Linked DNA regions of Homo sapiens: region 1 is linked to region 2. A link means that fine-mapping ties the variant in region 2 to the expression of a gene that starts in the linked region. Tissue or cell type: prefrontal cortex. Region 2 holds a variant in brackets; the other region holds the start of a gene. All regions are shown on one strand. Distances are from middle to middle.

Region 1 (5,353 bases), 40 kb before region 2:
TGGCAGTGGTGGTGGGGTGGGGGAGGCTTTGGGGCTCCCCAACACCCAGCCAGTGTCAGGAGCACTGTCTTCCCTGCCCTCCTGCTTAGCAGCTGTGCTAGGAGCCCCATCCTTCAAGCACCCCCTCACCCAAGTCCACCCGGCAGGGCAATTCTGGACAGGATACAAGGAGGGCCAGGAGGGGAGCCCTGGGTCTGCTGGGTGGAGCATCCGGGGTGTGGGAGGAGGAGCCAGGTGCTGATTCAAAGACCTCAAGATATTTCCCCTCTGGGACCATGACATTGCCTGAGATTCCTCCATTTATACATGTCCCTGTATTAATATGGCATTGACCCTAATGAATGGGTGCAGAACAGCATGGCAGAGGAAAAAGGTTTGGGCTTGAGGATCTCACAAACCTGGCTTCCTGTGAGCTCTGTAACTTGGGCTAGAGGCCTGCCCTCTCTGAGACTCAGTTTGCTCTTTTGTTAAATGGATGCATTCCCTTCTCTGGATGCCATCACTCAGGTCTCTCCAACAATCCCAGGGCTCTGGCTCAGAGAACCGAGGGGAGGTTGGTGTGAAGGCTTTGGGCATGGTGACGCGGGTGAGCATCTGACATGAGCAGGTGCACTTGACCTAGAGTAGGTGGAACACAGTAGGCATGCTTTACCTAGAGCCCCTGCCACATAGTAGGAGTGCTTTGTGGAGAGTGCCTTGCACACAGTAGGCATTCTTTATGTCAAGAACTTTACATAGAGTAGTTTTACTTTATGTGGAGCACTTGACACACAGAAAAAACACTTTATATAGAGCATCTGGCACACAGTAGGTGTGCATTATGTAGAGTACCGGCCACACAGAGTCAGAGTTTATGAAGAGTACCCAGCATCCAGAGTAGGCACGCTTTATGTAGAGCACTTGACACACAGAAAGAACACTTTATGTAGAGCATCTGGCATACAGTAGGTGTGCTTTATGTAGAGTACCGGACACATGGAGTCACAGTTTATGAAGAGTACCCAGCACCCAGAGTAGGCACGCTTTATGTAGAGCACTTGACACACAGTAGGTGCACTTGACATAGATCACCAGGCACGTAGTAAACATGCTCTACATAGAACATCTGACACACAGTAGGTGTGTTTTATATAGAGCAGCAGGTGCAGAGTAGGTACACTTTACATAAGTTACTCCGCACAAATTTCACTTTATATAGAGGACCGAGAACAAAGAAGCAAGATTTTCTGTAGAGCGCCCAGCACACAGTGGACACACTTTTCATAGAGCACTTGGCACACAGTACACAACATGTATACAGAGTACCTGGCACATGGTAGGTGTGCTTTATTTAGAGTCCAGTACACAGTAAAAGAACTTTGCATATTGTCTTTTGCAAAGAGCAGAGACTGACACACAGCAGCTAAAGTGCTAGCTGCCAGCCCCTTCCCTTCACTCCCTCCTCAGAATCTTTCATCTGTCCCCATCTAAGGCCCATTTTCCTGTGATCCCTCCTCTGTCCCCCTCTAAGGCCTTATCTGACATCCCATTTCCCAGATGGGAAGCCTGAGTCCAGGAGGGGCTCACTACCCACAGTTAGGGCAAGGGGAGGGCAGAATAAGGACTCCACTCAGGGTCCCCCATCTCTGCCCTCCTGTCCCTGGCCCCATCCACTCATGGCCCCTCTCAGCCTTACCTCCCATCTCCCCTCTCTGTCCTCCTATGCTGAACCTAGCCTCCAGGTATTCTCCTCCAGCGGGGCTCTTTATCTCTAAAATCTGACCGGGTAATCCCCAGCACAGTTAGATAGTTTGTTCCTACTCCTGTCAGTCATGTCTCGACCCAGGCCCTGGGTTGCCTGGAGGCAGGACTTGAACTCCTGCCAGACTGTGAAGCCAGAGGCCAGGAGCTTCTGTCTCTGAATCTCCTAAGTCTGCACTGAGAAATGGTGCATGATGAACTCCTGGACCACATGTGGAGAGGAGCTCAGAACATGATCTGGCACAATGGTTGGCCTGGCCCCACTCTCTTGCCACCTGAACTCTCAAGTTCATGACTTTATCTGCCACACTCTTGCCTTGGAAGGGCAAGGTGGCTGTAAACTTTGGGGCTCAGAGTCACCTTTGACTCTTCCTCAAGATCCCCTCCCACTCAGGTGTGAGATGTTGAGACCTGCGGATCCTGTGCCCATGCTGTGTCACCCTGAGCTGGCTCCTCTGCACCCAGCTGGCCCTACGCCAGGTTTTGGTTGGTTGCCCAGGCTTGGAAGACACACCCAGTCCATGGGGATTGGCTCGACCAGCCCAGCCCAGCCTCGCCTCCCACAGCCTTCCGGAAATCAGGGGCCAGAGGCAAAGACCTCCTAGCAGAGGGGGAGAGGAGGGTATGTGGGACAAGCTGCTTCTGATAGGAGCCAGGCTGGCAGTGGCAGGGCTGGAGGGTCCTGGCCTGGGATGGGGAGGGGACTGCCCAAGGTTGGGGTGGGTCAAGGCTGCTGGCCTGGGAGACTGGTGATTTCCTGGTAACTGGACCCCTGGCAACCTCCCAGTGATTCAGGCTGGGCCTTTTTGGATTCTAATCAGCCTCTCTCTCTCTTTCCCTTTCTGTGTAACTGGAGGCCACTTGGCTGCTGGTTTTCATTGGGCATTTCTGGACTTTAGATCTCAGCTCTTGTTTACCCATCTCAGAGCCTTCCCTGATCTGCCTCCAGCACTGCCCATCCTTGCCCCTTTCCACTGTCCTTGGAGCTTCCTGGGCCCTTCCCTGGGCCTCAGGATCCCACCCTCCATCCCGTCTGCCCTGCAGGATGCCGCAGCTGAGCCTGTCCTGGCTGGGCCTCGGGCCCGTGGCAGCATCCCCGTGGCTGCTTCTGCTGCTGGTTGGAGGCTCCTGGCTCCTGGCCCGCGTCCTGGCCTGGACCTACACCTTCTATGACAACTGCCGCCGCCTCCAGTGTTTTCCTCAACCCCCGAAACAGAACTGGTTTTGGGGACACCAGGGCCTGGTGAGTTTGTCAGCAGGACGGGTCTGGGGTCTCAGGATGCATGGAGTTCCTGAGGGGCAGGAATGGGGCTCAGGGAGCTGGGTTTTGAGGGTGGCTGGGGTGTGGGAACACAGAGAAGAGAGGGAGGCAGCTCACTCATTCCTCTGCCCACTCACTCATTCCTCTCCCCGCTCACTCATTCCTCTGCCCACTCACTCATTCCTCTGCCCACTCACTCATTCCTCTCCCCGCTCACTCATTCCTCTCCCCGCTCACTCATTCCTCTCCCCGCTCACTCATTCCTCTCCCCGCTCACTCATTCCTCTGCCCACTCACTCATTCCTCTTCTCGCTCACTCATTCCTCTGCTCACTCACTCATTCCTCTCCTCACTCACTCATTCTTCTCCTCACTCACTCATTCTTCTCCTCACTCACTCATTCCTCTGCTCACTCACTCATTCCTCTCCTCACTCACTCATTCTTCTCCTCACTCACTCATTCCTCTCCTCACTCACTCATTCTTCTCCTCACTCACTCATTCTTCTCCTCACTCACTCATTCCTCTCCTCACTCACTCATTCTTCTCCTCACTCACTCATTCCTCTCCTCACTCACTCATTCTTCTCCTCACTCACTCATTCTTCTCCTCACTCACTCATTCCTCTCCTCACTCACTCATTCTTCTCCTCACTCACTCATTCCTCTCCTCACTCACTCATTCTTCTCCTCACTCACTCATTCCTCTCCTCACTCACTCATTCTTCTCCTCACTCACTCATTCCTCTCCTCACTCACTCATTCTTCTCCTCACTCACTCATTCCTCTCCTCACTCACTCATTCCTCTCCTCACTCACTCATTCCTCTCCTCACTCACTCATTCTTCTCCTCACTCACTCATTCTTCTCCTCACTCACTCATTCCTCTCCTCACTCACTCATTCCTCTCCTCACTCACTCATTCCTCTCCTCGCTCACTCATTCCTCTCCCCGCTCACTCATTCCTCTCCTCACTCACTCATTCCTCTCCTCACTCACTCATTCCTCTCCTCACTCACTCATTCCTCTCCCCACTCACTCATTCCTCTCCCCGCTCACTCATTCCTCTCCTCGCTCACTCATTCCTCTCCTCACTCACTCATTCTTCTCCTCACTCACTCATTCCTCTCCTCACTCACTCATTCCTCTCCTCACTCACTCATTCCTCTCCTCACTCACTCATTCCTCTCCTCACTCACTCATTCCTCTCCTCACTCACTCATTCCTCTCCTCACTCACTCATTCTTCTCCTCACTCACTCATTCCTCTCCTCACTCACTCATTCCTCTCCTCACTCACTCATTCCTCTCCTCACTCACTCATTCCTCTCCTCACTCACTCATTCCTCTCCTCACTCACTCATTCCTCTCCTCACTCACTCATTCCTCTCCTCACTCACTCATTCCTCTCCTCACTCACTCATTCCTCTCCTCACTCACTCATTCCTCTCCTCACTCACTCATTCCTCTCCTCACTCACTCATTCCTCTCCTCACTCACTCATTCCTCTCCTCACTCACTCATTCCTCTCCTCACTCACTCATTCCTCTCCTCACTCACTCATTCCTCTCCTCACTCACTCATTCCTCTCCTCACTCACTCATTCCTCTCCTCACTCACTCATTCCTCTCCTCACTCACTCATTCTTCTCCTCACTCACTCATTCTTCTCCTCACTCACTCATTCCTCTCCTCACTCACTCATTCCTCTCCTCACTCACTCATTCCTCTCCCCGCTCACTCATTCCTCTCCCCGCTCACTCATTCCTCTCCTCGCTCACTCATTCCTCTCCTCACTCACTCATTCCTCTCCCCGCTCACTCATTCCTCTCCCCGCTCACTCATTCCTCTCCTCGCTCACTCATTCCTCTCCTCGCTCACTCATTCCTCTCCTCGCTCACTCATTCCTCTCCTCACTCACTCATTCCTCTCCCCACTCACTCATTCCTCTCCCCGCTCACTCATTCCTCTCCTCGCTCACTCATTCCTCTCCTCGCTCACTCATTCCTCTCCTCACTCACTCATTCCTCTCCTCACTCACTCATTCTTCTCCTCACTCACTCATTCCTCTCCTCACTCACTCATTCTTCTCCTCACTCACTCATTCCTCTCCTCACTCACTCATTCTTCTCCTCACTCACTCATTCCTCTCCTCACTCACTCATTCTTCTCCTCACTCACTCATTCCTCTCCTCACTCACTCATTCCTCTCCTCACTCACTCATTCCTCTCCTCACTCACTCATTCCTCTCCTCACTCACTCATTCCTCTCCTCACTCACTCATTCCTCTCCTCACTCACTCATTCCTCTCCTCACTCACTCATTCCTCTCCTCACTCACTCATTCCTCTCCTCA
Region 2 (5,295 bases):
GCTGCTCCTCCTGCTGGTCGGGGCCTCCTGGCTCCTGGCCCATGTCCTGGCCTGGACCTACGCCTTCTATGACAACTGCCGCCGCCTTCGGTGTTTCCCACAACCCCCAAGACGGAACTGGTTTTGGGGACACCAGGGCATGGTGAGTGTGGCAGCAGGATGGGTCTAGGTCTCAGGATGGATGGACTTCCTGAGGGGTACGAGGCTTAGGGAGTGGGGGTGAAGGGGTGGGCTGGGATCTGGGGTGGCAGAGAAGCAGAGGAGGCATCTTACTCATTCCTCTGCTTATTCATTTCTGTGAGGTGCCTACGCAAGCCCTTCTCACTTCCTTGTCCTCCCACTCCAGGCCTGCATTGAATCCTTTTCCTGCCTGTCTTCCCACATTAATGCACCTCTGCGGGGCTCCTGGGCAGAGGGTTGGCTGCACAGAGAGGCGAGTCCCTGGCATTCCCACATTCTCCATTGCTGGACTCGAGGCTTCTTATGCCCACTGTCCAGGGTCCTCTCCTTGCCTGGACTATTTCCTGTTATGAGGGTACAGCTGGGCCAGAGGAGAGGCATGGGCCGTCTCCCACTTCCACTACACCCGAAGGCACCTTTCTCTTATATTCTTCTTCTTATCTCCCTCTTATCAATGAGACCTGTTGCCAAACCCAGATAAAAGTTGGCCACTCACTTCACCTTTCAGAAGCTTTCCTTGGCCTTTCTCCTCCCCGTGACCTTGCCCTCTGACTTAGACCGCTCTCCTCTTTGGGGAATGTGGTCTTAGTCTGCTCATTTGCAAATGGCAGGATTGATGGATGTGTCCACAGATAAAGTGGAAGGGTGCACAGGACACACTAGCACAGAGCCTGCTGCAGAAGCTGCTCCCAGGTGGGAGCCATTGTCCTGATGGACAGTTAGAGTCACCTCTGCTCCACTAGTGGCTGCTGAAAAGGGAAGGTCTCCCATGTGCAGAACCTTCTCCATGGGAGGAACTGGAGCCTCTGTGGATCAGCCAGGACATGAAGGCATGTGGGGACCAGCCTTAGGGACATGTCCTGAGGCGATACTGCTCCCCACAAATCTCCCCTGTGAGGACCTCCCCATATAGCTGCCTCTGGGCTGAAATGACTCCCAGAAAAAGAAAATCCTTCCTCTCAAGATAACTGGGCCTCTGTGAGTGGACAGTGCGTCTTCTCCCTCTGCCCTGGGATGCACCCTTGGGACTTGGAGATGGACCCAAGAGAGATAGAGCAGGAGGAATGTGGATAGATAGATAGATAGAGCAGGAGGAATGTAGATAGATAGATAGATAGATAGATAGATAGATAGATAGATAGCTAATAGGATAGATAGATAGATGCACAGATAGGATGGATAGATGGATGGATGGATGGATGGACAGGCACGTAGGTAGATAGATAATAGAATAGATGGATGCATGGACACATGGATGCACAGATAGCATGGATGGATGGATGGATGGATGGATGGATGGATGGATAGATAGATAGACAAATAATAGGACATATGGATGCATGGACACACGGATGCACAGATAGGATGGATGGATGGATGGATGATGGATGGATGGGTAGATAGAGTAGATAGGATGGATAGATTATGTAGACAGATGGAGTAGATATATATGATGGATAGATTAGACGGATAGATGGCTATTAATAGATGATAAGCAGACAGACAGATGAATATATGGATGGATGAAAGCACAGATAAAATGGATTGATGGATAGATGGGTAGGCAGATAGATATATAGATAGAAAAATTAGATAGATAGGATGAATAGATTAGACACACCCAGAAATAATGTTTGACCAACTACCTGGGCATCCCTTAGCCCAGTCAAGTAGACACCTAGAATTAACTATCACAGAAGGTAATGACCCCTGCCTTGCTTGCAGGTCAACCCCACAGAGGAGGGCATGAGAGTTCTGACTCAGCTGGTGGCCACCTACCCCCAGGGCTTTAAGGTCTGGATGGGACCCATCTCCCCCCTCCTCAGTTTGTGCCACCCCGACATCATCCGGTCTGTCATCAACGCCTCAGGTACCATCTGGAACAGCTGGTGGGGCAGTGCATTTGAGGCCTGCACTTCCGCTATCCCCAAGCTCCTGTGTGGGCCCTGCAGTACTCTGGCCTCTCCTTTCCTTCCCTCTCAGCTATCTTCATCTTTCTTTCATGTATTCATCAATTTCCATCTCAGCGTCTCCTCTCTCTATTGCCATCTACCCCCTGTTCTGGTGTTCTGGGCTGCCCTGGAACCCTAAGAGACCTCAACCCAAGGCCC[A/T]GTCCTGGAGGAACCCCCAACTTTAAGGAGATGGACCTGGATAGAGATATCCCCAACTTCATGGGATCAGGAAAGGGCCAGAGGGAGATGGATCACAGCCCAGGGAAGAACAAGGTCTCTGCTGGGGCAGGCTGGAAGGCTTCCTAGAGGAGGAGTTACTGGAGCTGTGTCTGGAACAATGAGTAGGAATGTTTGAAAGGAGAGTGCAGGGTGAGGCAATTGGACATCGTTAGTATTCAAGGCCCCTTGCCAGGCCTAGCATCACCTTGCCTGTCCCAAAGCCTAGAACAATGAGGAGGACTTGTGGCTGGTGGGGGATCTGGGCTGCTACTTCCATGATGTCCACCTCTGGTGGGTCAATTCCCTTTACCCCATCCTATAGCTTGTCTGCCCTAAGTTCGTTGCTCTCCTGCTGCAGGTCCCGGGGATCTCCAAGAGGAGACTCCACCCCAGCTTGGGTCCCTTTCCTTGACCCCTGTGCTTCCCATCGTTGGACGGGCGAGGCTGAGCAGGGGGAATGGGCAGCATCCTACAGAGACCATGGCTCTGACCTCAAAATGCTGAGTGACTCTGGGCTGGTACCCAGCTGTCTCTGGTTATTGAAGTCTCTTTCAGTTGTGAGTGGTGGAAACCCAACCTGGTGTGGTCTAAGCAAAGAAAGATAATCTATTGACTTTAAAGTCCAGGGAGGGTGGCCTTCAGGCATGGCTGGATCCAGGTCTCACACAAGGTCACTGGAAATCTGTCTTTCTCTCTTGGCTTTAGCTTTCTCCATGTCGCTTTTCCTATCAAGGTGGCCTTTTCCTCATGATGTCAACGATGAGTCCCAGAAGCTCAGTTCTTATGGGAAAGGCCACCTTTCCCCTAGAGTTCCCAGAAATGGCCCATGGTTTACTTCTCCTGGCCTGGATCACAGGACCAATTTTTCACCCAATCCCTGTGTCTCTGATTGCCCAGTCTTGGTAGGCCTGGGTCTTCCAGAGCTACTGTTTTGGGGGCACAAAGAAGTTTGTTGGTTAAGGATTCAGGCCATGGGTGCAGACAGACCTAGTCTTAGGCCTCAGGCTTGCCGTGGTCTGGGACTGTGGGCAAGTGACTTTATTGTTCAGAGCCTCAGGCTCTTCATCTGGAAAATGGGATGAATGAGAGCCCAGGGAACATGGTGTGTGGATCCACATGGGGAAAGACCTTTTCTGTCTGTGTAACTGAAGGACTGGAGAGTCCTGCATGGAGGATGTGAGGAGGCAGGGGGTGCTCAGCACTGACAGGAGGATGAGATGCTGCTTGAAATTCTCAGGGAGAGGGCTTCGACCTCTTCCCTGCAGATCCTTCTCTCTCACAGCCTAGGAGAGCATGAATTGGGTCCTGTGTGTTTTTCTCCAGATTCACAGCTCAGAAGAAGGTCTCCTATACACACAAAGCCTGGCGTGCACCTTTGGGGATATGGGCTGCTGGTGGGTGGGGCCCTGGCAGGCAGTCATCCACATCTTTCTCCCCACGTGCATCAAGCCTGTGCTCTTTGCTCCAGGTAGACATCGCACTGGCCAAGCTTTGCCCACAGCTGGGGTTGCTGTGCTGCCTCCAGCTGAACACGTGACCGATGTGCAGACAGGAGGGGCTGTGGTGGAGATGCCATTGCCTCCATCGCCCCTGGACTTCCACCTGTCTAACCTCTGTTGCTGTTTGCTCATGTCTGGGGCGTGTCTCTACAATGGCTGTTATATGGCCAGGTCTGCCTTGTATATTTACACCTGGGTCCTGGTTACACCTGAAATATGTTATACCTGGTTACATCTGGTATATAATTCCAACTGGGGTCATGTAGAGCTGGTCAAGTTTGGGGCTTATCTGTGGCCAAGGACATTTGGGGCATGTGAGGGCCTGTTTGGTTCTTGTCTCAGGTGCTGTTTGACACTGCCGTTTTCTCCTGGTGGTCCAAACATCTGGGCGTTGTGTGAGGTCTGGGGGTTGTGTGAGGTCTGGGACCCAGGGTCCCTATGTGAACTGTCTGAGACATTATTTGAGTCTTGTCTGAGGCATGTGTTATAGTATATTTGGGTCATGCCTGAGGAACAGTCTGGTTCACATGTTGGCTATGTCTGTGACATTAAAGGTACCATATTTATATTCAACCCAGAGCCTGTATGTGGAACACGCTTTTAAGATCATGTTAGACCATCTCATGTGCATGTTAGAGCACACCATCTCATGTTAGGAATTGTCATGTATTTTGTGGCCATGTCAGGACATGTGAACACATGTCAGGGTCATGTCTCATGTCCAGGTCCATGTCAGAAGATGCCATATCAGAAGATGTCAGAGAGTGCTGGGACAGACAGGGTGTCCTAGGTCCTTGTGAAGCATTCTGTAGAATGCTGAGCTGTGCTCAGGGGTTGCGGAACATGTTGGATCGTGTAGGAGGCATGTCAAGGCATGCTGGAACCCTGACATAGCTCCTACACGCCATGTTAGGCAGTGTCATTGCTGTACTGTGCTGCTGTAGCCTGGTCTGGTCTTCCCTCCCCTCCCCATCCTCCCTTCTTCCTCTGCCCTTGGCCCTCTTCCTGCTATGTGGGGCTCAGAGTGGGAGAAGTGCAAACCTCTTGCTGGGAGCCTCCACCCACCCCCAAAGTCCCTCTTTCACCTGCCTCCATGGCCCCTGATTGTCCTCATTTATGTCAGCTGCCATTGCACCAAAGGACAAGTTCTTCTACAGCTTCCTGGAGCCCTGGCTGGGTGAGTATCTGCAGGTGAACAGGGTTGGGAAAAACGTTGGGGGGCCAGGGGAGGGAGAGGTCCTTGCCCATGGCCCTTGGCTGCCCTGCTAGGGGATGGGCTCCTGCTGAGTGCTGGTGACAAGTGGAGCCGCCACCGTCGGATGCTGACGCCTGCCTTCCATTTCAACATCCTGAAGCCCTATATGAAGATTTTCAATGAGAGTGTGAACATCATGCACGTGAGTTATTTGAAGCCAAGGTCCCACTTGCAGCCTTGGGGTGAAAGG

What was found. PIP is the estimated chance that this variant, and not a neighbour inherited with it, causes the effect. A credible set is the group of variants that fine-mapping cannot tell apart.
Region 1: CYP4F11 starts here. The variant in region 2 is the best candidate, but not a certain one, in a credible set for the expression of CYP4F11 in prefrontal cortex (CommonMind, PIP 0.70).

What each region holds. Positions count from the first base shown.
Region 1 is chr19:15,931,841-15,937,193 of GRCh38, reverse strand. CYP4F11 (cytochrome P450 family 4 subfamily F member 11) reads left to right here and starts at 2,665. Exons shown (of 12, transcript NM_021187.4): 1 at 2,665-2,983. The coding sequence starts at 2,786.
Region 2 is chr19:15,892,261-15,897,555 of GRCh38, reverse strand. CYP4F2 (cytochrome P450 family 4 subfamily F member 2) reads left to right here. Exons shown (of 13, transcript NM_001082.5): 2 at 1-142; 3 at 1,906-2,050; 4 at 4,974-5,027; 5 at 5,120-5,247. Among named protein-coding and RNA genes, the nearest start is that of CYP4F2, 3.2 kb to the left of the region's middle. RefSeq lists an enhancer at 4,271-5,295. The variant A/T (reference allele first, on the strand shown) is at 2,292.